Linked DNA regions of Homo sapiens. The protein of the gene in region 7 purifies or fractionates together with the protein of the main gene of each other region. This does not show direct contact. Each region holds a gene or a part of one and is shown on either strand. Other genes may lie near its edges.

Region 1 (3,500 bases), on a different chromosome or scaffold from region 7:
CACTGAGGTCAGTTGTGGGTGTGATTCGAAGTGCCTGTTGGAGATGGGTTAGAGATGTCTGGCTGGCCCCTCTGAGCTCCAGGATGGAGGCCTGGTTGGGAGGCAGTGCAGGCAAGTAACGCCCTGTGCCTTCTTCCCACACAGCCTCAGCCTCACCATGTGTGTCAGGAGCTGTTTCCAGTCCCCCCGTCTCCAGTGGGTGTGGAGAACAGCCTTCCTGAAACACACCCAGCGCAGGCACCAGGGGTCCCACCGATGGACACACCTTGGAGGCAGCACCTACAGAGCGGTGATTTTCGACATGGGCGGAGTTCTCATTCCTTCTCCAGGGAGAGTCGCTGCAGGTGAGCTATTGATTCTGTTTCACTTTGTGGGACTAGAGTGGTGGTGGGAGAATGGAGGGTGATCGGGAAGGCAGAGGGGAACACTTGGGCAGCAGTGTGTCCCAGCAGGCCATGCTCTGGCTCTCGAGTCGAATTCCAAGCACCACTAGGGGGCTGAGTGTCTTGGGCGCATGATTCAGCTTCTCCAAATCTTACTTTCCTCATCATTAAATGAGCTAATGGTAGTGCCTTCCTCCTTGGGATTTGGCGGAGAGTTATCCGTGGGAAGCACTTGCTTAGCACAGTGATTGCTCAGTGCATCCTAAATTCTCAATCAATGATGAGCTGCCATGAATGCTGTGATTAGAATTTAACCACCAAGGCAGGGCACAGTGGCTGAAGCCTGTAATCCCAGCACTTTTGGAGGCCGAGGTGAGAGGGTCGTTTGAGCCCAGGAGTTCAAGACCAGCCTGAGCAACATAGTGAGACCCCGTATCTGCAGAAATTTAAAAATTATCTGGGCATGATGACAGGCACCTGTAGTTCTAGCTACTCAGGAGGCTGAGGTCGGAGGATCACATGAATCCAGGTGGTTGAGGCTGTAGTCAGCCGTGATCATGCCACTGCACTCCAGCCTGGGTAACAGAGCAAGACCCTTACTCAAAAACAAACAACCAAAAATCCCAAAGAATTTAACCACTTCTTCTTGGGAACTGTTCTACTTCTGAAATCTAGAATGCTGAAATTCCCCTTTTGATTACAGCCTTCCTCCCTTCTACCCCACTCCCTCTAAACCTGCTTCTGGACTGACAGGGTAAGGGTCAGCCCTCTGGTCTCTGGTCTTCTCTTTACCAGCCCCTTCCTGGTTTTACTTCTTTTCTACTCAGTTCAGTTTTTATTAGTTAAAGTCGTTTTGGCTTCAAGCAGTAGAAAACCTAACAAAACAGTGACTGAAACAAGCTAGAAGTTTCTTTCTCTTGCACATAAAAGCCCAGGTATGTGGTCTGGGGCACTGTGTGATGCGACTCTGTGGTATCAGGGACTCCGACTCTTTATAGCATGTTGCTCTGCTGTGACTTTTCATTTCCACTCTTACATTGTGGTCTGTCTTGGCTGTGTCGCCTCCTGCTATCATATTCTCATGCCAGCCAGCAGGAAGGACAAAGGGCCAGGCAGCCATCCCTCTCCTTTTGACCTTCTGTGGTGGCTGGTTGGCCAGTTCTCCATCCTAAATCAACCCAGGCACAGGTTTTCTATGCCTGCGTGTCTAGGCTTTCCAGCACTGCTGACCAAATTACTCAGCCGTGCTAACTGGCTGCACAAGCTGGTTTCTGAGCTCCAGCCTCAGTTGGGCCATTGGTGCTACGCCTGAGCCTCTCTGTTCCTTCACTCTTATCTCTCTGTTCCTTCACTCGTATCTCTGTCATGTTTACCTCAGGGGCTGTTCCAGACTGTCCACTCCCCCTGCTCCTTACCACCCCCAAATATTCTTGCTCTGCAGATAGCTGAATCTGTTCTTCTACAAAGAACATAAAGACTAAACCTGAGCAACACAGTGAGACCCTATGGTGAGCTAGGATTGCACCACTGCACCCCAGACTGGCACAACAGTCTTTTTTAGAGAACCTGTCTCTAAAAAAAAAGGCAGCAGGGAAGAACATAAAGATCACTGGACAGAAAGTTTCTTGACTTTCTCTAGAATATCTTAAGAACCAATTCACTTCTCTCCATTGCCACTGCCTCCACCCTTGCCTTCTCTCACCCAAATGATGTCATCAGCCTCCTAACTTCCTCTGCCTCTGGCTCTCTGGATTTTACAAAATCTCCTCCCAGCTCCAGAATTAACCTTTCTAAAACATGGATCGTGCTTCTGCGCTTAGCAGCTCACACCTGTAATCTCAGCAATTTAGGAGGCCGAGGTGGGCAGATCGCTTGAGCACAGGAGTTCAAGACCAGCCTGGCCAACCTGGTGAAACCTTGTCTCTACGAAAAATACAAAAAGCGTACCTGGGCATGGTGGTGCATGGATGTAGTCCCAGCTACTTGAGGGGCTGCGGTGGGAGGAACTCTTTAGCCTGGGCGATTGAGGCTGCAGTGAGCTGAGATTGCACCACTGCACTCCAGCCTGGGTGACAAAGTGAGACCCTGTCACAAAATAATAAATAAAATAAAAATAAAGCATAGATCTTGTTCCTTTCATCCCTGGCTTGAAAATCTTGAATGCCTGCATGTGGTCCCCTAGATTAAGTCTAGAAGCTTTCACCTGGGATTCAGGGCTCCTCTCAGTTTTAGCTTTCCTGCTATGGACTACCTGATGCTCCCCAGGCATGCCAGGCACATTTGCATGTTTGTGCCTTTGCAAGCTGTGTTTCCTCCCTGCCTCCTCTGCCTGTTCAAATCCTACTGATGCTTTTAATGGCAAATTTAAGGGGATATTATTCAGCAATGACTGGAATCTTTTGAACACTCAGTAAATCTCATGGTTGTTACTAACTTCAAGAGTCCTCTTCTGTCAAGACTTCTCCAACCTCATTTGCAACCTGGGCAGAATGTTCCTGGATAGCCAATTCCCATTAAGTTTCACCTTCACCGAGATATTTTTGTTTGCAGTGGGATATGTTCATGTCTCCTCTATGGGGCTCTTGGATTCCAGGACCCCAGGTCTGGGATTTCTTCACTTCACTGTTGCAGTGTTAGCTCTGCAGGCTGGCTCAGTCATTCAGGAAATGTTTGATGGGTAAATGTGAACAAAATAGTGATGCCTTCTACTTTGTCTTTTGCTTGACTGGAGCTTCTAATGTTATTTATTTCAAATGAACCATATCAAGGGTCATTTGATAAGAATATACTAGAATTGGCCAGGTGCGGTGGCTCATGCCTTTAATCTCAGCACTTTGGGAGGACGAGATGGGCGGATCACTTGAGGTCATGAGTTTGAGACCAGCCTGGCCAACATGGCAAAATCCAATCTCTACTAAAAATTCAAAAATAAGCGGGGCATGGTGATGGGCACCTGAAATTGCAGCTACTCTGGAGGCTGAGCAGGGAGAACCACTTGAACCCGGGAAACAGAGGTTGCAGTGAGCTGAGATCATACCATTGCGCTGCAGCTTGGGAGACAGAGCAAGACTCTGTCTCAAAAAAAAAAAAAGTATATATATATATACACTAGAATTA
Region 2 (3,500 bases), on a different chromosome or scaffold from region 7:
TGTCATCATATAAAACTTAGAAACCACATATGCACACCACAGAGGAGACCTGCTCATCATCCACCACTGAGAATGAACCGCCCTTCTGTTTCAGTTTTCTCCAGGAGAATGCTGTTCAGATGCAGCTGGCAGTGCTACCTCTCGTCAGCAGACATGCTGCACTGAAACTGTAGATGCTGCTTATGATCCAAGATTTAGCTTTTCTTTCATTAGCAAAAAGCAGAGTATTGGAAGAGGTTGTCTGAGCCAGATGAACTTGAGGAGTTTTAGGAAGGGTCGGAAATGTCTGCGAAGATGCAAGGGAACCCACCTTTCTCTGTCCAAATCTTCCCAAAACATCAGACTTTGCCTCTTTGTTGGTCTTGCCTTGGGTATTTATTATATAGAGACTAAACAGAATTTGGAAACCACTGGGATGTTTAGCTATCCCTGCTTTGAATGTTGATTTATTTTATACCACTTAAAATTATTATATAAGCTTCAAGATTGCAAAGGGCAGTCTTAGTTATTTCAGTAGGAGTTTGAAACCTGATTGCAGCTGCAGGTCCCACACAACTGAATTCGGTTTCTTGTGCACAGCACTGTTCTCTGGAGGTGCCTGGAGGTCTGAAGGTGTGCCCTTTTATAGACAGGAATTCCACCATGATGGGTAGAGCTTGTTTTTTAAAAAGGCTTGGGACTAGATACGATTGCCCAAGAAGACAGTGTAGACAGCGAGGAGGGCTGAGCATGAATGGGATGAGCCTCCAGCACAGAAAGGGCAGGCAGGAAGGCAGTAAAGAAACAAGCAGGGCACAAACCAGGAGAGTATGGCATGCCATGATGGAGACTGAACAGAAGCAAAAACTACAGGCAACTGTAGTTTTGTTCCCTGTTGAAGGAGAGACACTCTATTAGAGAAGACCTGGAATTCAGTTCAGTTTCCTTAGCAAAGGACAAAATGGGGAGAGAAGACAGGGAAACAGTAAGCAGCCACGTGAGATTCTGGGGAAGACCTGTGTCTTCTGAGCAAAGTAGCCCCTCCAGCCACAGGATAGACAGTGACTTCTGTCTTGCATGAGTGAAACCACTGGATCTGGCTCTGCCCGCCCCTCCACTTTCTTGCTTCCTTAGCCTGTGAACAAAGTGAAGGACAGGTAAGAGCATATTGCTTTTCTGCTGAGAACAATCTAATACCTTACAGCTGCATTTTCCCACACTGCTTTCAGAACATTGAATTGCTGGGTGTCCTTAAGAAAGGGTTGGGAAATTACGTCACAGTGTCTCTCTCGTGAAGAATCACTCTGGGTACATTTATTTCATATAGTGTATGTGTTATTTAGTTCATTAAAGATGCGTAAGGCTGGGCACAGTGGCTCACGCCTGTAGTCCCAGCACTTTGAGAGGCTGAGGTGGGCAGATTACTTGAGCCCAGGAGTTTGAGACCAACCTGAGCAACATGGCAAAACCCCGTCACTACAAAAAATACAAAACTTAGCTGAGTGTGGTAGCACATGTCTGTGGTCCCAGCTACCAGGGAGGCTGAGGTGGGAGGATTGCTTGAGCTCAGGAGGCAGAGGTTGCAGTGAGATGATGCCACTGCACTCCAGCCTGGGCAACAGAGCGAGACTGTGTCTCTCAAAAAAAAAAAAAAAAGAAAAGAAAAGAAACCATCCTGATTAACCTTGTCTAATCCAGCACTCATCTTTTTTGAGCTTGGGCCCGTTTTTTTTTTCCATCCTGAGGAACAGTGTTTGCCTCTTACCTGTTGGGGAAATGCTCTCTTAGAGTCTACAAAGCTCTGACATGTATATCATGTCTCTATAGCCCTCACCGTGATCCTGTGAGAAGAGCAAGGCAGATGTTACCTCTCTTAGGGATGGAAAACTGAGGTGCCGATGTTGACCTGCTCAAGGTCACCCCGCTAAGGACTTGAAATTGTGTCCTCTGAGCTCCTGCCCAGTCTCCTTTCCATCAGACCACAGTTGGGGGTCTGGAATATTTTATAAGGGTCAGTTCTAGAGAGAAGATTAATCAGGAGCAGTGAAAGGAAAGAACTGCTTGTGAGAGCCTGTGGTGAATTTCTGCAATCACATTGTAAATATTTGTCTGTTCCCGGTTTCAACATGACCCAGAATGTTCTAGTTTGACGTTTGGCTGGACAGGGTCTTACATAGCAGGAGTGCTCAGGTACATGTTTGTTGAACATATGACAAATGGATGATTCTTACAAAATCCCATCCTATACCTATTACTGTTTCAATTCCAGTTCTACACATTCATACTACATGCAGAACCAGGGGCCCATGCACCTCCTTCTGTGCACTGGTCAATGAAAGTATTTATTGGAAAGCCAAAGTCCACTGCATATCTGATTTGACTGTGTCCTTGCACTATAATAATGTGCTTGGTGTTCATTCAGATGTCTGAGCCATTATTATATCTTAAACTCAATAGACTTCTACATTTATTGACTGCCACCTTTGTCCTGGCAAACTTGGCAGATCCTGGTTAATGCTCCTAATTGACTATTGCCTGTCAACAGGTTAACAGAGAGTCCCTGAGGGAGGCCAACTGTGGATCTGCAGGCTGGCTGCAAGACAACAGAAACCATTTTAAGCTTCAGTTCTAACAAGCTGCTAAGGAGTGAAGTGGGGGAAAGGAGTGGACTGAACAGCATTGGATGGTTTCCACACCCCATAAAAGCGTGTGCAAGTACATTTGTGTACCTGGTTCTCCTTTGCTAATGGTTTTAGGCTTAATTCTCTAACATCAAAAGGAAGTCCTTACTGCAAACAGTGTCTTCCTACTGAAAGAAAGCTCCACTCTAAGCCAAGTCTTCTGAAAGAGTTGCCTCTGGCCATGGTACAGAAGCTAGACCACCAGGGACTAGCAAACCAGGGCCAAGACTGGTGCCACCTTGATTTTATACTAATCTTTAACACTGGAAAAACTTGAGTACCCCTGAATATGGTAAGTCCATCTGTGCTTTTTTTTTTTTTTTGAGACGGAGTCTCACTCTGTCGCCCAGGCTGGAGTGCAGTGGCGCAATCTTAACTCATTGCAACCTCGCCTCCCCAGTTCAAGCAATTCTCCTGCCTCAGCCTCCCGAGTAGCTGGGACTACAGGCGCCCACCACCATGCCCAGCTAATTTTTGTATTTTAGTAGAGATGGGGTTTCACCATGTTGGCCAGGATGGTCTTGATCTCTTGACCTCGTGATCTGCCCACCTCGGCCTCCCAAAGTGCTGGGATTACAGGTGTGAGCCACCGTGCCCTGCCCCATCTGTGCTTTTGCTCACAGTTTGGAGAAAAATTGTTAGGGGATTATATCTCTACCTGAGTAGTTAGCTGAGGAGATTCCCACCCACCCTTAGGGGTTTTTGGAAATCTCTGAGGGTGATCTTGGCTGTCCAGTGAGAGCATGATGCTGGCATTGAATGGGTGTCAGGGAACCAGTTCAGTCCTTCCTGCCCAATGAAGGATTGTCCTACCCCCAAATGCCAGTCATGATCCCATGA
Region 3 (3,500 bases), on a different chromosome or scaffold from region 7:
GTGAGCCGAGGCCATTGCACTCCACCTGAGCGGCAAGAGTGAGACTCTGTCTTCAAAAAAAAAAAAAAAAGGAAAAAAAAGAGTGTTATTCAAAAACCTCTTTAGGCCAGGCGCGGTGGCTCACACCTGTAATCCCAGCACTTTGGGAGGCTGAGGCAGGCAGATCACTTGAGGTCAGGAGTTCAAGACCACTCTGGCCAACATGGCGAAACCCCATCTCTACTAAAAATAAAAAAATTACCCAGTCATGGTGGCAGGCACCTGTAATCCCAGCTACTCGGGAGGCTGAGGCAGGAGAATTGCTTGAACCCAGGAGGCGGAGGTTGCGGTGAGCCGAGATCGGCGCCACTGCACTCCAGCCTGGGCGACAAGAGCGAAACTCCGTCTCAAAAAAAAAAACCAAAAAACAAAAAAAAAACTTTGATTAAAATGGGTAGTTCTCCAAAAAGGAATTCTGTGAGTTCAAGCTCTTTTTTTTAACACAAGTGTCTTTTTTGTTTTGATTTTCTCTTTTCTTTTTTTTTTAATATAAGATTCTGCCTTAGATTAACTTTGAAAATTACCTCCTCCTGATTGATTAGACTGTGTTAGGGACGTTATTTAGGCCACTCATTTATCTACTTCCCTCACCTGTCTCTCCCCATCTTTCCTTCTGTTGTTATTGTGTTTTTTAACATGAGGGTTTTGGGGGAAGCTAAAGAGAAGACTGCAAGATGAGTGTTTTCACAGGGCGAAGCCCCTGTGGTTGGCTGCTGGAAGGTTTCTCAAGGGCTTTTTATATCCAACAGACTGAAGGTCCAGAATTAAGTCCAGGAGTAATTGAACTTCAAGATAAGTTACAAAATGAGATAGAAAGGTGCATCTAATAGTTATCTGGGAAAGGTGTTAAACAAAGCCATGATTAATGGTAGTTAATAAGTTATGAAGGTACCAAAGAATTCTTATGAAGTAAGTTTTTTGAAATGTGTTCTGTGTCATCATTAAGCTAAGACTACTTGGCAGATGTCTTACAGTCTGGACTACGTAACCTTGACCAAGATTCCTCATCACCCTAGATTGCAGCATTGTGTCTTCAGGGATGAATAAACCACTTGAAAGTGAAAACAACATCATACCATGATAGGAGGCCAGGTGCAGTGGCTCACACCTGTAATCCCACCACTTTGGGAGGCTGAGACAGGAGAATCACTTGAGGCCAGGAGTGTGAGACCAGCCTGGGCAACAAAGTGAGACCCCCATCTCTATAAAAATAAATTTTTAAATTAGCCAGGCATGGTGGCATGCACTTGTAGTCCCAGCTACTTGGGAGGCTGAGGCAGGAAGATTGCTTAAACCCAGGAGTTCAAGGTTACAGTGAGCTGTGATCATGCCACTGCACTCCAGCCTGCACAGCAGAGTGAGACCCTGTCTCTAAAATAAAATGACAGGAGACATCACATTAGCCTAAAGGTTAACTTCTGGACACCTTGGCTGCTAAGTCAAAAAGTCCAGAAAGCCACCCTTGCTTTTCACTACTTTCAGAATAAACAGACCTCCGCTTCCTTTGTAGCTTAGTGGGTGATTGGATTCTAAACTGGCCACTCTATAAGAGAAGACAATTTGAACTAAAGCTGTTGCTAATAAATGGTTATATCTACTGCAATGAAGAGGAAACAAAAACATGGAGTCTGTTGAAAAGTGGCTTGATTCCCTCAGTCAACTAATTGATAAGTATTTGTTAAGCATTAACAATGGTTCTGGGTGCCATGAGCTATACTACAGAAATATAAATCTAATAAAAATATATCCTCTGCCTTATAAGTAGATTAAGACCAGTTAGAGAGAGGAAGCTTAAGGTAAGTTAAATAATAGTGACCAATGCAGGGTACTATCTAATTCATTACAAAATTATGTGGAATTTTTTTTTGTTTTTTGACGGAGTCTCACTCTGTCCCCCAGGCTGGAGTGCAGTGGCGTGATCTTCTACCTCACTGAGTTCAACTCAGTGAACTCACTGCAACCTCCGCCTCCTGAGTTCAAGCGATTCTCCTGCCTCAGCCTCCTGAGTAGTCAGGATTACAGGCATGCGCCACCACGCCTGGCTAATTTTTGTATTTTTAGTAGAGACAAGGTTTCACCATGTTGGTCAGGCTGATCTCGAACTCCTGACCTTGTGATCCGCCCGCCTCGGCCTCCCAAAGTGCTGGGATTACAGGTGTGAGCCACTATCTGGAATTTTTTAAGCACTAATTGGCTGGAGAATGTACTTTAGGAGTTTGGAAAGAACAAGAGGAGAATTAAGGCAATGCCATGCAAAGGGACACCCTTAAACAGGTATGGAAGGCAAGTAGACATGGCGCATTCGAGGGACTGGGTAGAGAGAGAAGCTGGGTGGGACCAGTGGTTCTGTCCTGGTGAGTAGTGGGAGTGCTGTTGGCCCTGCGAGGCCAGGTCATCGAAACTGGGCACAGCTGTTTAGGCCGTCCACTAAACCTTCACCATCCAGTACAGCAGCCAGTAGCCATGTATAAATACAGCCATTTAGTTACATGTGGCTGTTGAATGCATGAAGTGTGTCTCTTTCCAACTGATGTGCTATAAGTGCAAAATACACATTGTATTTCAAGACCAGTGCGAAAAAGAATGTAAAATTCCTCACTAATCACTTTAACTAATCACATGATGATGTGAAATTATTTTGGATATATTGGGTTAAATGAAATATGTTATTAAAATTAACTTGTTTTTACTTTTTAAAATGTGACTACTAGAAAACTTTGAATTACCGACGGGACTCACGTTACATTTCTCTTCAACAGTATTACGCTAGATTAAAATAAGTTGTCATGAGTTGTTGAACAAGGGGAAGGAACTGACAAGAAGTGATACCCGAACCTAGAAATGCCTCTGGGAGAGGCAGAGCAGAGTTGCTTCCCTGGATACATTGGCACCTTGTCAACAATTTCTTTTAAGGCAACACATTGACATGGCAGGAGTTCATGATTTAAAAAAAAATTTTTTTTAAAAAGAGAGCTGTGTGAAAGAAAGCAAGGCTGTTAAGGCTGTGAGTCACATAGAGGATTTAGCCATTGGGTGGTACCTTTCCTTTTATATAAACACCCACCAACAGTGCAGACCCTCTCCAGCCCCTCCCCCTCCCCACCCTCACTGCCATACACTGCCGTGCTTCTTCCCACTAGTGTGGCCGTCTGAATCTTCTCTTTAGCATCACTGACAAGTGGTGGCTTAACATCTGTGTGAATGCCTCCAATGATGAGGAACTCGGTACCTCACGAGGAAGTGTGTCCCATTCACTCAGTATTGTTACCAAAAATACTTTCTTCCCGTCCTTTCCTCCCTGACAATGCTTAAAAAGAGGGTTAGAGTTCCTGGATCCTTGATTCCAGGTAACAAGAGGGGCTTATCATTGTTTTTTAAAAACAAAAAGAGGCCGGGTGCAGTGGCTAACACCTGTAATCCCAGCACTTTGGGAGGCTGAGGAGGGTGATGTCACCTGAGGT
Region 4 (2,467 bases), about 96 Mb from region 7:
AGTGATAAAATAATTTTGGCTAAAATAAAGCAAGTTCTCAGGCCAGGCGTGGTGGCTCATGCCTGTAATCCTAGCACTTTGGGAGGCCAAAGTGGGAGGAATGCTTGAGGCCAGGAATTGGAGACCAACCAGGGCAGCATGTCAAGACCTGGTCTCTACAAGGAAAAAAAATTTTTTTAATTGACCAGTATATACTTACATACCTGCAGTGTTTAGAAAACCCGACTATAGGTGGTGTATTCCTGTAGTCCTAGTTACTCAGAAAGTTAAGGCAGGAGGATCGCTTGAACTTAGGAGGTCAAGGCTGCAGTGAGCCCTGTTCGTTCCACTGCACTCCAGCTTGGGGGACAGAGCAAAACCCTTTCTCAAGAAAAACCCAAACAAACAAAAAAGTGAAGCCAGTTCTTTAATTTCTATTGGAGATATCACACACGCTCCAAAGAGTGGCAAAGGTGAACATTCTTTGGAGCTATTATATTTCTAATGTAACATCAATGGCCATTTACTCCCAAAGGGAAACATCTTTTTTTTTTTTTTTTTTTAAGATGGAGTCTGGCTCTGTCACCCAGGTGGGAGTGCAATGGCAGGATCTTGGCCCACTGCAACATCAGCCTCCCAGGTTTAAGCAATTCTCCTGCATCAGCCTCCAGAGTAGCTGGGATTACAGGTGCCCGCCACCATGGCTAGCTAAATTTTTGTAATTTTTAGTAGAGACAGGGTTTTACCATGTTGGCCAGGCCGGTCTCGAACCCCTAACCTCAAGTGATCCGCCCGCCTCACCCTCCAGAAGTGCTAGGATTACAGGCCTGAGCCACCGCACCCGGCCCTGCTATTTTTTTCTATGTAGTTGTTTCAGTAATACCATATGAGCAGAGAATACTATTGATTCATTCAATTGAAGAAATCTGAATAAATTAGTAAATATAATAATTCTTCAAAAGAGGACCACTTTATGTTTCCAATAGATTATATAATTGAATTCAGGTAACGTAGAGTTATTCAGACTTTTTTTTTTAAATAACGGAATTTTGCAAAAAAACAGGTTGCATCGTTTTCTACAGAGAATATTCAGATGTGTAGAGGCAAAGAGACTTTCTTGAAAGGTTTTTATTTCCTGTTAAATTTGTGAGGAAAACTCCTGAGAAAGGAAAGATTTACTTTTGAAGGAAGAAAGAACATAACCCAAAGAAATTTGAAAGATTCAAAAAGAGTTTTCCAAATGTATTCTCATTTCTTTCTCATATTTGTTCAAGGTCTTAGTTTCCAAGCATTCAAAATTAAATCTTGTTTGCCTAACTCTTCTAACATCTATTACCAACCTAACATATTACAATTCTGTTTAAAATGTGCAGTTCTAAATGTTCTTGCGTGCCTCACTGTGGAAAGTGTGGTGCATGGAACTGCAGCGTCAGTATCACCCAGAAGTATAATTACAAGAAGTGCAGAGTCCTTGGCCTTACCCTGTACCTACAGAAGTCCGCTTTTGGGCAAGATCCCCAGATGATTCATATGTGTATTAATATTGAAAAAATTGGAACTAGTAAGTCCTAGAGGAGGTAAATTTTAAGGGCTTTTTAAGGGAACTTCCAAGTGTGAAGACATTTCTGGAGATGACAAGTCAACATAGCATGGGATCTTGGCTAGACAAGGAAAGCGAGAGAACATTAAATAAACACAAGCAACGACAAACCACCTATGTTATAATTTTATCCTGGACCATCCAAAGTTTACTCTTGGTCACGCTGTCTAACCCAGCCTGCCTCCTGGCACTTGCTAGTTAGAACCAGGGAAGAGAAAACTAATATGTGTTAGGTATTATAATTTCCTTATGTCACATAAATTTTGGTGCCATAGCTAGCAATGTTTCTTAATATCACATCAGTACAATGTGTCCATTGCCTTCTGTAACATTTTTAATGCTATCAATAATACATTGACATTATAAAAATAAATGAATGTGGTCAATATTTTGCAAAGAGCTTCTCTTCATCAGCTATATCTATACACCTGCAGTGTTTAGAAAGCCTGACTACAAAAACTGGCTCTACTGCTTATGTCTTGCTCTACTTGCTTATTCTACCCATGGTAGAATTATATAGTCATATTGTGTCCGGAGTTGGTTCCTTCCAGTGGGTTCATGGTCTCACTGACTTCAAGAATGGAGCCACGGACCTTTGCGGTGTTACAACTCTTAAAAATGGCACAGACCCAAAGAGTAAGGAGCAGTAAGAGTGAAAACAAAGCTTCCACAGGTGGAAGCAAACCCCAGTGGGATGCCTCTGCTGGCTTGGGGGTGGCCAGCTTTTATTCCCTTATTTGTCCCCTCCCATGTTCCATTTTTGTCCTATCAGAGTGCCTTTTTTCAATCCTCCCTGCGATTGGCTACTTTTAGACTCCTGCTGATTGGTGCATTTTACAGAGCACTGATTGGTGCATTTTACAGAGCGCAGTTTGGTGCATTTTACAA
Region 5 (3,500 bases), on a different chromosome or scaffold from region 7:
GAACATAAACTTGGTTAGGACCTTGAAAGATGCATAGAATTCTGAAAAAGGTAAGGGAGGATATTTGTAGGGCTCTATAGAAAGCTCATTTAGGCGAGAGAAGAAGGTGCATGAAAGTGACATATTAGGAGATAAAGTAGATTATTGTCTTATAGTGAAGTTTTCAATGCTAGCTTTGTTTAAATGTCCCAGGTCTGGCCAGGTGCGGTGGCTCACGCCTGTAATCCCAGCACTTTGGGAGGCTGAGGCGGGTGGATCACCTGAGGTCAGAAGTTTGAGACCAGCCTGGCCAACATGGCGAAACCCGGTATCTACTAAAAATATAAAAATTACCTGGGCATGGTGGCACATGCCTGTAATCCCAGCCTGTGGTCAGGAGGCTGAGGCAGGAGAATTGCTTGAACCTGGGAGGCAGAGGTTGCAGTGAGCCAAGATCACACCATTGCACTCCAATCTGGGCAACAAGAGCGAAATTCTGTCTCAAAAGTAAATAAATAAATAAATAAATAAAAATTTCCCAGGTCTGAAGCATACAAGAAGTTGAGCAGTCTTTCTTTCTCTCAACACGCATATTGAACACCTTAGCATCTGCTGTGTATCAAGTGTTAAAAGCACAAAGGACATAATATAAAAGAGTCTCTGCCCTTGTAAAGCACATTTTATTCTGACAATTTCAATGCCATGTGCTTAGTATGGTAGGTTATGATACAGATACAGATGTAAGAGAGTTCAGTAGGGACTTCCATTCCCAGCCAACATGGAGTAACTGGGAATAGATATACCATTCTGCCTGAAACAACCAAAAAGCTAGATATAACGTATGATACAACACTTTGTGAGATACCGGACATCAGACAATGAAGGGTAGCAATCTCAGAGATGGGAAACAAATGCTGTGAACCCTATCACTGCTCCGGCTTACTGCCTTGAAAGAGTGTGCAGGCTGTGACAGGGAAGGGGGAAGCCAGGCAGAGCCCAGCAGACTTCTGAGTTGAGGAGATGGAGTTGAGGGTCTAGGAGATCGAGGTAACTGGAGTTCACAAGACAGAGCACCCAGAGAGGAGAGAGCTACAAAGAGGGAGAACTCTGAAGATATGCACGGGGAGCCCCCTGGCCCTGCGCCTACCAGGCATCCAGTAGAGTGCTAATCAGGGCATGAGGAAGCTCTTGGAGGCCTCATAAAGAACCACCTAAAAGGATTGGAAGGAACAGTTTCTCCATACAGGGCCAAGAATACTGCCTATTTCACCCACAAGCCAGACGGAACCCTCATAATTCACAGAGCATGTAGGTAGAGTACTCAGAAAGGTCTTGCCTCAGTAGTGGAGGCCTTAGATTAGCCTTAGATGAAGCCCACCTAATTTCTTAACAGCAAGACTGTTTCCAAGTAACTTGACTGCACTCCAGAACAAAGTTCACGAATATAGGATTACAGAAAATGGCCGGGTGCGGTGGCTCATGCCTGTAATCCCGGCACTTTGAGAGGCTGAGGCGAGCGGATCACGAGGTCAGGAGATCGAGACCATCCTGGTTAACATGGTGGAACCCTGTCTCTACTAAAAGTACAAAAAATTAGCCGGGCGTGGTGCTGGGTGCCTGTATCCCAGCTACTTGGGAGGCTGAGGCAGGAGAATGGTGTGAACGCAGGAGGCAGAGCTTGCAGTGAGCCGAGATCATGCCACTGCACTCCAACCTGGGTGACAGAGCAAGACTACATCTCCAAAAAAAAAAAAAAAAAAAAAAAAAAAGGGAATACAGAAAATACCCAGCACCCACAGAGGTAAAATTTGCAATATCTGGCATCCAATAAAAAATGACAAGGCATGCTAAGAGGCAGGAAAATGTGAGCTGTACTGAGTCCACTGAAACTGATTCAGACATGACATAGGCTAGAAATAGCATGTGAACATTAAACATTATTATAAATGTCTTCTATATATTTAGAAGTTACATAGAGACATGGAAGATACAAAGTAGACCCAGCTCAAACTTGTACAGATGAAAACTACAATGTCAGATTAAGAGTGCAGTAGGAATGATGCTGGGGCTGGGAATGCTAAAAAGGCACCGCAGAGAAGGCGGTTTTGCTGGGACAAGCATTTGACAGGTGGGGAAGAATAAGTAGAGCTGGTGTAGAGATGGAAAGTGTTTCATGAAAGACGGGTATCATAAGCAGACGGCACCAGGAGGGAGGGAAATGGTGAGAGGCAAATCCTTGGCCAGGCGTGGTGGCTTATGCCTGTAATCCCAGCACTTTGGGAGGCCAAGGTGGGTGGATTGCTTGAGTTTTGGAGTTCAAGACCAGCCTGGGCAACATGGTGAAATCTCACCTTTACTAAAAATACAAAAATTAGCCAAGCATAGTGGAGTGTGCCTCTGGTCCCAGCTACTCGTGAGACTGAGGTAGGAGGATTTCTTGAGCCTGGGGAGGGGGGCACGGAGGCTGCAGTGAGCCGAGATCGTGCCACTGTTCTCCAGCCTGGGTGACAGAGTGAGACCCTGTTTTTTTTTTTGTTTTTGTTTTTGTTTTAAAAAAAAAGGTTGGGTACAGTGGTTCACACCTGTAATCCCAGCACTTTGGGAGGCTGAGGGTGGACCACTTGAGGTCAGGAGTTTGAGACCAGCATGGCCAACATGGTGAAACCCCGTCTCTATTAAAAATACAAAAACTAGCTGGACAAGGTGTCGGGCACTTGTAATTCCAGCTACTTGGGAGGCTGAGGCAGGAGAATTGTTTGAACCCAGGAAGCAGAGGTTGCAGTGAGCTGAGATCATGCCATTGCACTCCAGCCTGGGGGACAGAGCAAGACTCTGTCTCAAAAAAAGAAAAAAAAAAGAGAGAAAAAAAATCCTGAGAAGTTACTTGGGGACAGATTGTAAAGCGATAGACTAAGAATTTGGACTTTGTCCTGAGGATTTGGGGATCGTATTAGGATTATCCAGAGGGACAGAACCAATAGGATATATGTATATATAAAAAGGGGGTTTATTAGGGAGAATTAGCTCACAAGATTACACAGTGAAGTCCCATGATAGGCCACCTGCAAGCTGGGGAAAGGGAAGGTGGTAGTGGCTCAGTCCAAGTTCAAAAGCCTCAAAACCAGGGAAGCCAACAGCGCAGCCTTCAGTCGGCAGCCGAAGGCCTGAGAGCCCCAGGCAAGCTGCTGGTGCAGGTTTCAGAGTCCAAAGGCCGAAGAATCTGGAGTCTGATGTCCAAAGGCAGGAATTAAGGAGGCAAGCATCTGACGCAGGAAAGAGAGAGCCAGAAAACTCAGCAAGCTGCTTATACGCCTATTCTGTGCTTTGTTCTAGCTGCATTGGCAGCTGATTGGATGGTGCTTGCCCATATTGAGGGTGGGTCTTCCTCTCCCAGTCCACTGACTCAAATGTTTGGCTCCTCACAGACGATACTTTGCCATCCATTTGACACTTAATATTGACCATCATAGGGAGCTACCCAAAGTTTTTGAGGAGAGAAACACGAATGTTTGTCTTGGAGC
Region 6 (3,708 bases), on a different chromosome or scaffold from region 7:
GGTATTTTGCAAATCAAAATAAAAATAGTTGTTGCCCAGATATACACAAGACATACACATACATATGTACACACATATACATCTATACATATATGTGTGTATAAATAAACATGTGTATATATACATATACATGTCACTATACTGTAGAAGCTAAAATATTGGTGATTCTTAGTTTTTGTGGGTGGTGGCTTCACGAATGTGAAAGAAAAGGAAAGAAAAAAAAGACAAAGGATGGGAAGGGGAGGAAATAATAGGACGGGAAAGAAAAGGGAAGGAAGAGGGACAAGCAGGGATCGATGATAAGGGTGTGTTGTAAACCAAGGACTATGATGAATTTGTGCATCTGAAATTCATATTTAAAATGTTTTAATGCTTTCTTTTCTACCTGTCTGACATTCTCTCTCTATGAAAACTGATCAAATGTTGGAAGGTAAGTTTCAAGTGTGGAGAGAGACCAAGGGAGATGGCAAGAAGGAAGTTGGTAAATCAATTTGGGGTACACGGGCTTTGGGGTCCCTCAGGGACACTCAGGCGGTGATGTCCAATAGACAGTTGGCAAAGCTGATATGAGACACGGAGAAGGGAACAGCCTGGAGCTGTAGATCTGGGAGTCATCGGTGTTTACTGGAAATGAATGAGATCACACAGGGAGAGACAACTTGAGGACTGAGGAGAGAGGAGGCCCAGGACAGAACCCCAGGAACACCGCCACTCAAGGTGGCAGCTCAGCTTCCTGGCAGGCACCACTACCCCCCGGGCTCTGGAGTCAGGCAGAGCCGGTATTGAAAGTGGGCTGTGGAGTTCTGGGGCTGAGCGCTCTTGGCAAAGTCCGGTACCTCTATGATCAGCTGTCACACCTGGCGATAATGGGCATCAGAGAGATATGCCTTGCGAGGATGCTGTGAGCTGCGTCAGGTAAAGCACCTAGGGTCAGAAAGCCACCTCTCCTCCTCTTCTCCGCGACCCCACTTTGCTACACAAACGCACCGAGACTCCGACCGTCCCCAGCCTCCGGTCCCTCAGGGATGGAAGGTGAGGTATGTCAGGAAAGAGAGGGGGGCCCAGCTCCAAGGTGAGGTGTGTCAGGCAAGAGCGGGGGCAGAGCTCCGGTGACGCGGTGCTCACGTGACCCGCCCGGCGCCTACGTGGGCACCAGCCCCCGCGCCCGCCCGCCAGCCCGCCCAGCGGTCGGGTCCGGGCGCCCGCGCAGAATCAGCTGTCTGAGCTGCCCAGGCGGCGGGGGAGCAGCGAGCGGGCTTCAGCGAGCCGCAGGAGGCACAGGCCTGTCCTGGGTCCCCGCAGGTCAGTGTGAAGGCGTGCGCTGCCGGCGGACCCTGGGACAGGGGTGGAGGGGGCTGGCAGTAGGATTGGGGAGGGGGCGGAGAAGGGATCCGGTAGATTGGGGAGGAGGGGGATGCGGAGTCGCGGGGGCGGGGGCAGTGGAGGGAGAACCCCCGAAGCAAGCCTGGCTCGCCTTCTCGACGCCCCCTTGCACTGAGTCCTCCATCCATTTTAGTGCTGGAAATGGGGGGTGGGGGTAGCGACCCCGCAGTGCGACAGTGAAACGTAGACATATTCTGGAAATAACCCCTTCTCACAATCTACACCCATGGAAACACTTGATCTCCGCAAAAATGAGGTGGCGCTGGGGCAGGTTGCCTCCGGGGAAGGGGGACACAGAGACAAACGCAGTTTGGAAAGCATCCTGGTTTGGTGCCCGAGGCCTGGAAAGAAATGGCGGCTGGGGTGCGGGGGAGGTAGGGGAGGAAAACGGTGGGTAAGCAGGGCCTGGACTCAGGAAAGGGAACCGAGTCCCTGTGAGCCCGCTAAGCGCGCAGCCCCTGCCCCTGTCTCCTGTCTGTCCGCAGGTCTGCGCGTCTGTTGTTCCCAGCGCTCTGAGAGGCCTGAAAAGGAAGAGCAACCTGTCCAGAATCCCCGCAGGTCCGTGAAAGCAGGGGGCTGCATGGACAGGGGCCCACAAGGGTTGAGAGTGTGGAGGGCACAGTCAGGGCCGAATTGGGGCCCCTGCCCATCCCCTTACCTACATGAACACACACCTTACCAGGCTGAACCAGTGCAGAGAAGGTGGCAGGGCCTGCCAGGGAACAGCTGGCTCACGTGTGTGGGAGGAGTGGTGGGCTACGTGGTGGGCAGAAGGCCCTCTTGGAGGCCCAGTCAGCTTAGGGGAACCCTCACCAGGGGTGAGATGCAAGTAGTATCCAGACCTGCATTCCACCCCATGCCCTCAGTCTCCCATGTCTCCTCTTTGTCTCCTCTTCCCTCCACACCCATCCCCCAGGAAAGGAAAAGGAGGGGAAATCTCGACATGGAAAAACTCTTCAATGAAAATGAAGGAATGCCTTCGAATCAAGGAAAGATAGACAATGAAGAACAGCCACCGCACGAGGGAAAGCCAGAAGTAGCTTGTATTCTGGAAGACAAGAAGTTAGAAAACGAGGGAAACACAGAAAACACGGGCAAGAGAGTTGAGGAACCGTTAAAGGATAAAGAAAAGCCAGAGAGTGCGGGAAAGGCAAAAGGAGAAGGAAAGTCAGAGAGGAAGGGAAAGTCAGAGATGCAGGGAGGATCAAAGACAGAGGGAAAGCCAGAGAGAGGGGGAAGGGCAGAGGGTGAAGGAGAGCCAGACAGTGAAAGAGAGCCAGAGAGTGAGGGAGAGCCAGAAAGTGAAACAAGGGCTGCAGGAAAGCGCCCAGCTGAGGATGATATACCCAGGAAAGCCAAAAGAAAAACCAACAAGGGGCTGGCTCAGTACCTCAAGCAATATAAGGAAGCCATACATGATATGAATTTCAGCAATGAGGACATGATAAGAGAATTTGACAACATGGCTAGGGTGGAGGATAAAAGGAGAAAAAGCAAACAGAAATTGGGGGCGTTTTTGTGGATGCAAAGAAATTTACAGGACCCCTTCTATCCTAGGGGTCCAAGGGAATTCAGGGGTGGCTGCAGGGCCCCACGAAGGGACACTGAAGACATTCCTTATGTGTAGTGTCCCTGGCAGGCATTTGTCAGGCCATATGTTTTAACCTTATGGTAATACTTTGCTTTAGTCGTTCCTCCTGCTACCAGTAGCGTTTTGACCCACCTGCCAGTGTTTGCTTGCTCTATGTTTCAGTAGCAGATTTTCACACATGTGCATTGCAGAGACGTCATGATTCGTGGAAAAATAAAGCAGCTTATAATATCATCTACAGAATCTGTCTGTTTTTGTTAAATACATGAAAGGTTAACAGTGGTTTTCTGAGTTGTGAGCTAGCAGGTGATTTCATTTCTTTGTTTTCTTTCTACTAATCTTTCTTTTCCCAGAGAACACAAATTACTTTTCTCACAAAAATAATAAAATATTTTTAAAAAATCAGAACAGTATGTAAAAAGCAAAGAGAATAACTGTCCAGTGAACTTATGAAGTTCAGTAGAGACACTTAACGTTCTTGTTGTCAGAACTTAAAATGATAGGTAAAATTCACATTACCTACCTGTGGGACTCATCTGGAGAAGTCAATCTGGGGTTATTACAGATCCATTGCTCTAACGGACAGTCTTTTCATTTGTCAAATAGAGATAATACCTTGCTTTTCAGAACTGCTGAGTGGGTTGGATAAGGTAGAGAATATATTTGTTGGGTTGGCATCTACCTTCTCCCCTGCTCTAGCAGAAAAAAATACCCCCTCAGACACTTGGAAGAGG
Region 7 (3,500 bases):
AAAGCCTACCAGGTCTCTCTCTATATATGTATATATATATGTATGAGTAATTATCTGAATGCAAATAAAAAATTGAAAGCAGAATCACAAGATATTTTTCATGGGATATATGAGAGGGGAACACTGATGTGCCTAGAGGACAAAAAAGTAGAGACAATCAAAACAGTTTAAAAAAAGAAAGAAAGAAAAGTGCACTTAAAAAAAGCATTTATGTGAAAAGTTATGGGGCTCTTTAAAATAATATCTTGTGGGTATATGTATACATTAAACTAAAAATTTTTTAAATTTAAGATTACGATTAGCCTCATTAAAACAAACATTTTCTAAATGTTTAAGTTCTCACAACGTGAGGAATTTTTTGTAAATGCTCAATTGCAAGATAAATACTTAGAACTATTAAGAATACAACAGAAACAAAATATTCTTGTTTTGCACATTTCATTATGGTTTGTGAGTTAAGATTTCACTCTGAAGGATAATCCAACACATAATGTCCACAGCAGAGTTGTTAAATTCGATAACAACTAGCAAAATTAAAATTAAAGTAAAGAATAATTTGAAATTGGCAGGAAAGATGTCTTAAACAAACAACTGCAAGGAAGGCTAAAGTGTTTACTAAGACAATTTTTTAAAATATAAGCTTACCTCTTTCAAGCATTCTGAGTCCTCCTCCCTCTGGCCTGTTCCCTCTGCAGAACCCAGACAAGGAGGAAGGCTGGGACTGAAGGCCATGAGGTCCGTCTTATGCGGGCCCTCCCCAGAGCACACCCTCGGCCGCCTCTGCTGCGAGTACGACCAACTCCCTGCCGCGCTGGAGCACACTAGAGTGGGCTTGCCCGGCGCGCACGCGCCCTCGGTGGGCGGTGCCGAGCACCGCAGCGCAGTATACAGCAGCAACGTGAGCACCAACAGGCTGGACACCGCGCAGATGGCAATGATCAAGTAAACATTGACATCCACCAGCGCCGCTTCTGGACCCACAGCGCCTGCCGACGCCCTCGACGAAGCCTGTGGCGCTTGGCCGCTCTCCACCAGCGACAACAGCACCGTTGCCGTGGCCGTCAGCGCGGGCTCACCGTGGTCCTTCACCAGCACCAGAAGGCGGTGGTGCGGCGCGTCCACCTCGTCCAGAGGGCGCGTCGTGCTGATCTCGCCAGTGTACAGCCCCACGCGGAACGGGATGCGCGCGCCGACCGCCGCCAGCTGCAATTCATACGAAAGCCACGCATTGTAGCCCGAATCGGCGTCCACCGCGCGCACCTTCGCCACCACGTGGCCTGCACCCACCGACCGCGGCATCAGCTCGCTCACTGTGCCTCCCGCGCTGCCAGCCCCGGGCGTCAGCAGCGCCGGAGCGTTGTCGTTCTCGTCCAGCACGAACACCTGCAGCGTCACGTTGCTGCCCAGAGGCGGCACGCCAGAGTCGCGCGCGCTCACCTGGAACTGCAACAGCTCCAGCTCCTCGTGGTCCAACGGCTGCAGCGCGTACACCTTGCCGCTCTCCGCGTGCACCGACACGTAGCTCGACAGCGCACGCTCGCCCACCCGCCGCTCCACCAGCGAGTAGGAGACCAGCGCGTTCTCCTGTGCGTCCGCGTCCTGAGCAGACACCGTGAAGATGTGGCAGCCCGGCGGATTGTTTTCCTTCACGAACACCGTGTACTCGGGCTGCGCGAACGCCGGCGCGTTGTCGTTCACGTCGGCCACCCCCACCGACACGCTGGCCGTGGCCCACAGCGAAGGCGAGCCCCCGTCCCGCGCGGTCACCACCAGTTCATAGGCTGATACGCTCTCGCGGTCCAGGGCGCTGTCCAGCACTAATGAGTAGTAGTTCTTGTAGGTGGACACCAGCTTGAAGGGGACATGCGGCGTCAAGGTGCAGGTGACCTGTCCATTTGAGCCAGAGTCACGATCGGACACACTGATTAGGGCAATAATGGCGCTAGGCTGAGTGTCTTCTCTGATGGGGAGTGACAAAGAAGTGATGGTAACCTCTGGGGCGTTATCATTTACATCTAGTACTTCCACCAAAAGGGTACAATGACCCGCCATTGGAATATTTCCTTTGTCAACTGCCTCCACGGATATTTCATATAATTTCTTTTCTTCGAAATCTAGTTTGCCTTTTGTCCTAATTTCTCCATTGTTCGGATTTATGGTAAATGCATATACCACTGCAGGCCATACAGGCCTTCTAAATGAGTAAACTATATCTCCATTTGTACCATCATCAGGATCTGTGGCATTTAGCTTGATCACTAATGTTCCATTGAAGGCGTTCTCTAACACCGTCACTTTATAAACGGATTGGTAAAATTCCGGGGCGTTGTCATTCACGTCCAGAATCGTGATGAGCAGCTGAACTGTGCCAGTCAGCTCGGGTTTACCTCCATCACTGGCTGTCAGTAATAAACTATGTTCCTGAATTTCCTCTCTGTCCAGTGTTTTCCTCAGTACAAGTGATAATGAAGACATTTGCTCAAGACTGTTTTGTGCGTCCAAAGTGAAATAATCGTTGGGATCCAGTCGGTAGGTCAATGCCGAGTTTACTCCAATATCTGCATCGGATGCGCCATCTAGTGGAAATCGAGTTTCCGGAGGTCTAGATTCTGCAATGATTATTCGTTTCTTGCTTTCAGGGAATATGGGCGGGTTGTCGTTAATGTCCCTCACCTTCACCTCCACATGGAAAACCTGCAGAGGCCTGTCCACGATCACCTCCAGGTGGATGCTGCACTCCGCGCTCCGCCCACACAGCTCCTCGCGGTCGATCCGAGAATTCACAAACAAAATGCCATTCTGCAGATTTACCTCCAGAAGGTCCCCGTGTCTTTTGGACGCCACCCGGAACAGGCGCGGCACCAGCTCCGCCAGCTCCAGCCCCAGGTCCTGAGCGATGCGGCCCACGAAGGTGCCGTGTTTTGCTTCCTCGGGGACGGAGTAGTGGAGCTGGCCACTACCCGTCTCCCAGGCTGCGAGGATCAGAAGCCAGAGCAGTAGTTGCCGCGGTCTTGGGCCTCCTTGCCAGGAAGACAGCATGGTACACTCCAAAAACCTCAGAGCTATCTGCAATATATACAACGCCTTACCTCAAACTGTCTCTCAAGGCCCAATTTTTATGGCTTCCTAGTGCGGAAGGATTCGCAAGAGGTATTCCGCTTTCTGCTATATTTTCTGCAGGAAGAAAGAAACGGCGGCTTTCTTCGCGGAAACGTTCTCAGTGAAGAGCGACACCATGCGCATGAACGTGTAAGTGTAAGTATGACTCAGTCTTCATATTTTCCATTGATGTAGTATTTTTTTGCCCCTTGCATTTCCTGACATTTTCACTGCAAATATGTAATTGAAGATTAAATGTTTACCTTCCCAGAAACAGCAAATCACTGCATTCTGCTCAACATTTTATATTAGCTGACAATTGGTTGATGAGTTTCATTTTGCCACAAATTTATTTTTCCATGTGTAAGAATTCCATGCAGAACTTTAAGACAAAGAATATT

Evidence for each region.
Region 1: the proteins of PCDHA12 (region 7) and ACAD10 purify together in Homo sapiens (affinity purification with mass spectrometry; 2 studies listed by BioGRID and IntAct, with this or other methods). This does not show direct contact.
Region 2: the proteins of PCDHA12 (region 7) and SLC25A15 purify together in Homo sapiens (affinity purification with mass spectrometry; one large-scale study listed by BioGRID and IntAct). This does not show direct contact.
Region 3: the proteins of PCDHA12 (region 7) and CNNM1 purify together in Homo sapiens (affinity purification with mass spectrometry; 2 studies listed by BioGRID and IntAct, with this or other methods). This does not show direct contact.
Region 4: the proteins of PCDHA12 (region 7) and HCN1 purify together in Homo sapiens (co-immunoprecipitation; one large-scale study listed by IntAct). This does not show direct contact.
Region 5: the proteins of PCDHA12 (region 7) and TMEM192 purify together in Homo sapiens (affinity purification with mass spectrometry; 2 studies listed by BioGRID and IntAct, with this or other methods). This does not show direct contact.
Region 6: the proteins of PCDHA12 (region 7) and TCEAL2 purify together in Homo sapiens (affinity purification with mass spectrometry; 2 studies listed by BioGRID and IntAct, with this or other methods). This does not show direct contact.

The regions. Positions count from the first base shown.
Region 1 is NC_000012.12:111,692,553-111,696,052, forward strand, and holds part of ACAD10 (acyl-CoA dehydrogenase family member 10), read left to right. Parts: intron 1-144; 5' UTR 145-157; coding exon 158-344; intron 345-3,500.
Region 2 is NC_000013.11:40,799,611-40,803,110, forward strand, and holds part of SLC25A15 (mitochondrial ornithine transporter 1), read left to right. Parts: exon of another isoform or gene 1-1,114; intron 1,115-3,500.
Region 3 is NC_000010.11:99,381,356-99,384,855, forward strand, and holds part of CNNM1 (metal transporter CNNM1), read left to right. Parts: intron 1-3,500. UniProt on the Homo sapiens protein: Probable metal transporter.
Region 4 is NC_000005.10:45,254,448-45,256,914, reverse strand, and holds the end of HCN1 (potassium/sodium hyperpolarization-activated cyclic nucleotide-gated channel 1), read left to right. Parts: 3' UTR 1-1,967; downstream 1,968-2,467. UniProt on the Homo sapiens protein: Hyperpolarization-activated ion channel that are permeable to sodium and potassium ions. Displays lower selectivity for K(+) over Na(+) ions.
Region 5 is NC_000004.12:165,106,361-165,109,860, reverse strand, and holds part of TMEM192 (transmembrane protein 192), read left to right. Parts: intron 1-3,500.
Region 6 is NC_000023.11:102,124,505-102,128,212, forward strand, and holds TCEAL2 (transcription elongation factor A protein-like 2), read left to right. Parts: upstream 1-1,174; 5' UTR 1,175-1,302; intron 1,303-1,868; 5' UTR 1,869-1,941; intron 1,942-2,299; 5' UTR 2,300-2,326; coding exon 2,327-3,010; 3' UTR 3,011-3,208; downstream 3,209-3,708. UniProt on the Homo sapiens protein: May be involved in transcriptional regulation.
Region 7 is NC_000005.10:140,881,808-140,885,307, reverse strand, and holds part of PCDHA12 (protocadherin alpha-12 isoform 1 precursor), read right to left. Parts: intron 3,185-3,500; exon of another isoform or gene 3,040-3,184; coding exon of another isoform or gene 616-3,039; exon of another isoform or gene 428-615; intron 1-427. Other genes in the region: PCDHA13 (protocadherin alpha-13 isoform 1 precursor), read right to left, coding at 646-3,039. UniProt on the Homo sapiens protein: Potential calcium-dependent cell-adhesion protein. May be involved in the establishment and maintenance of specific neuronal connections in the brain.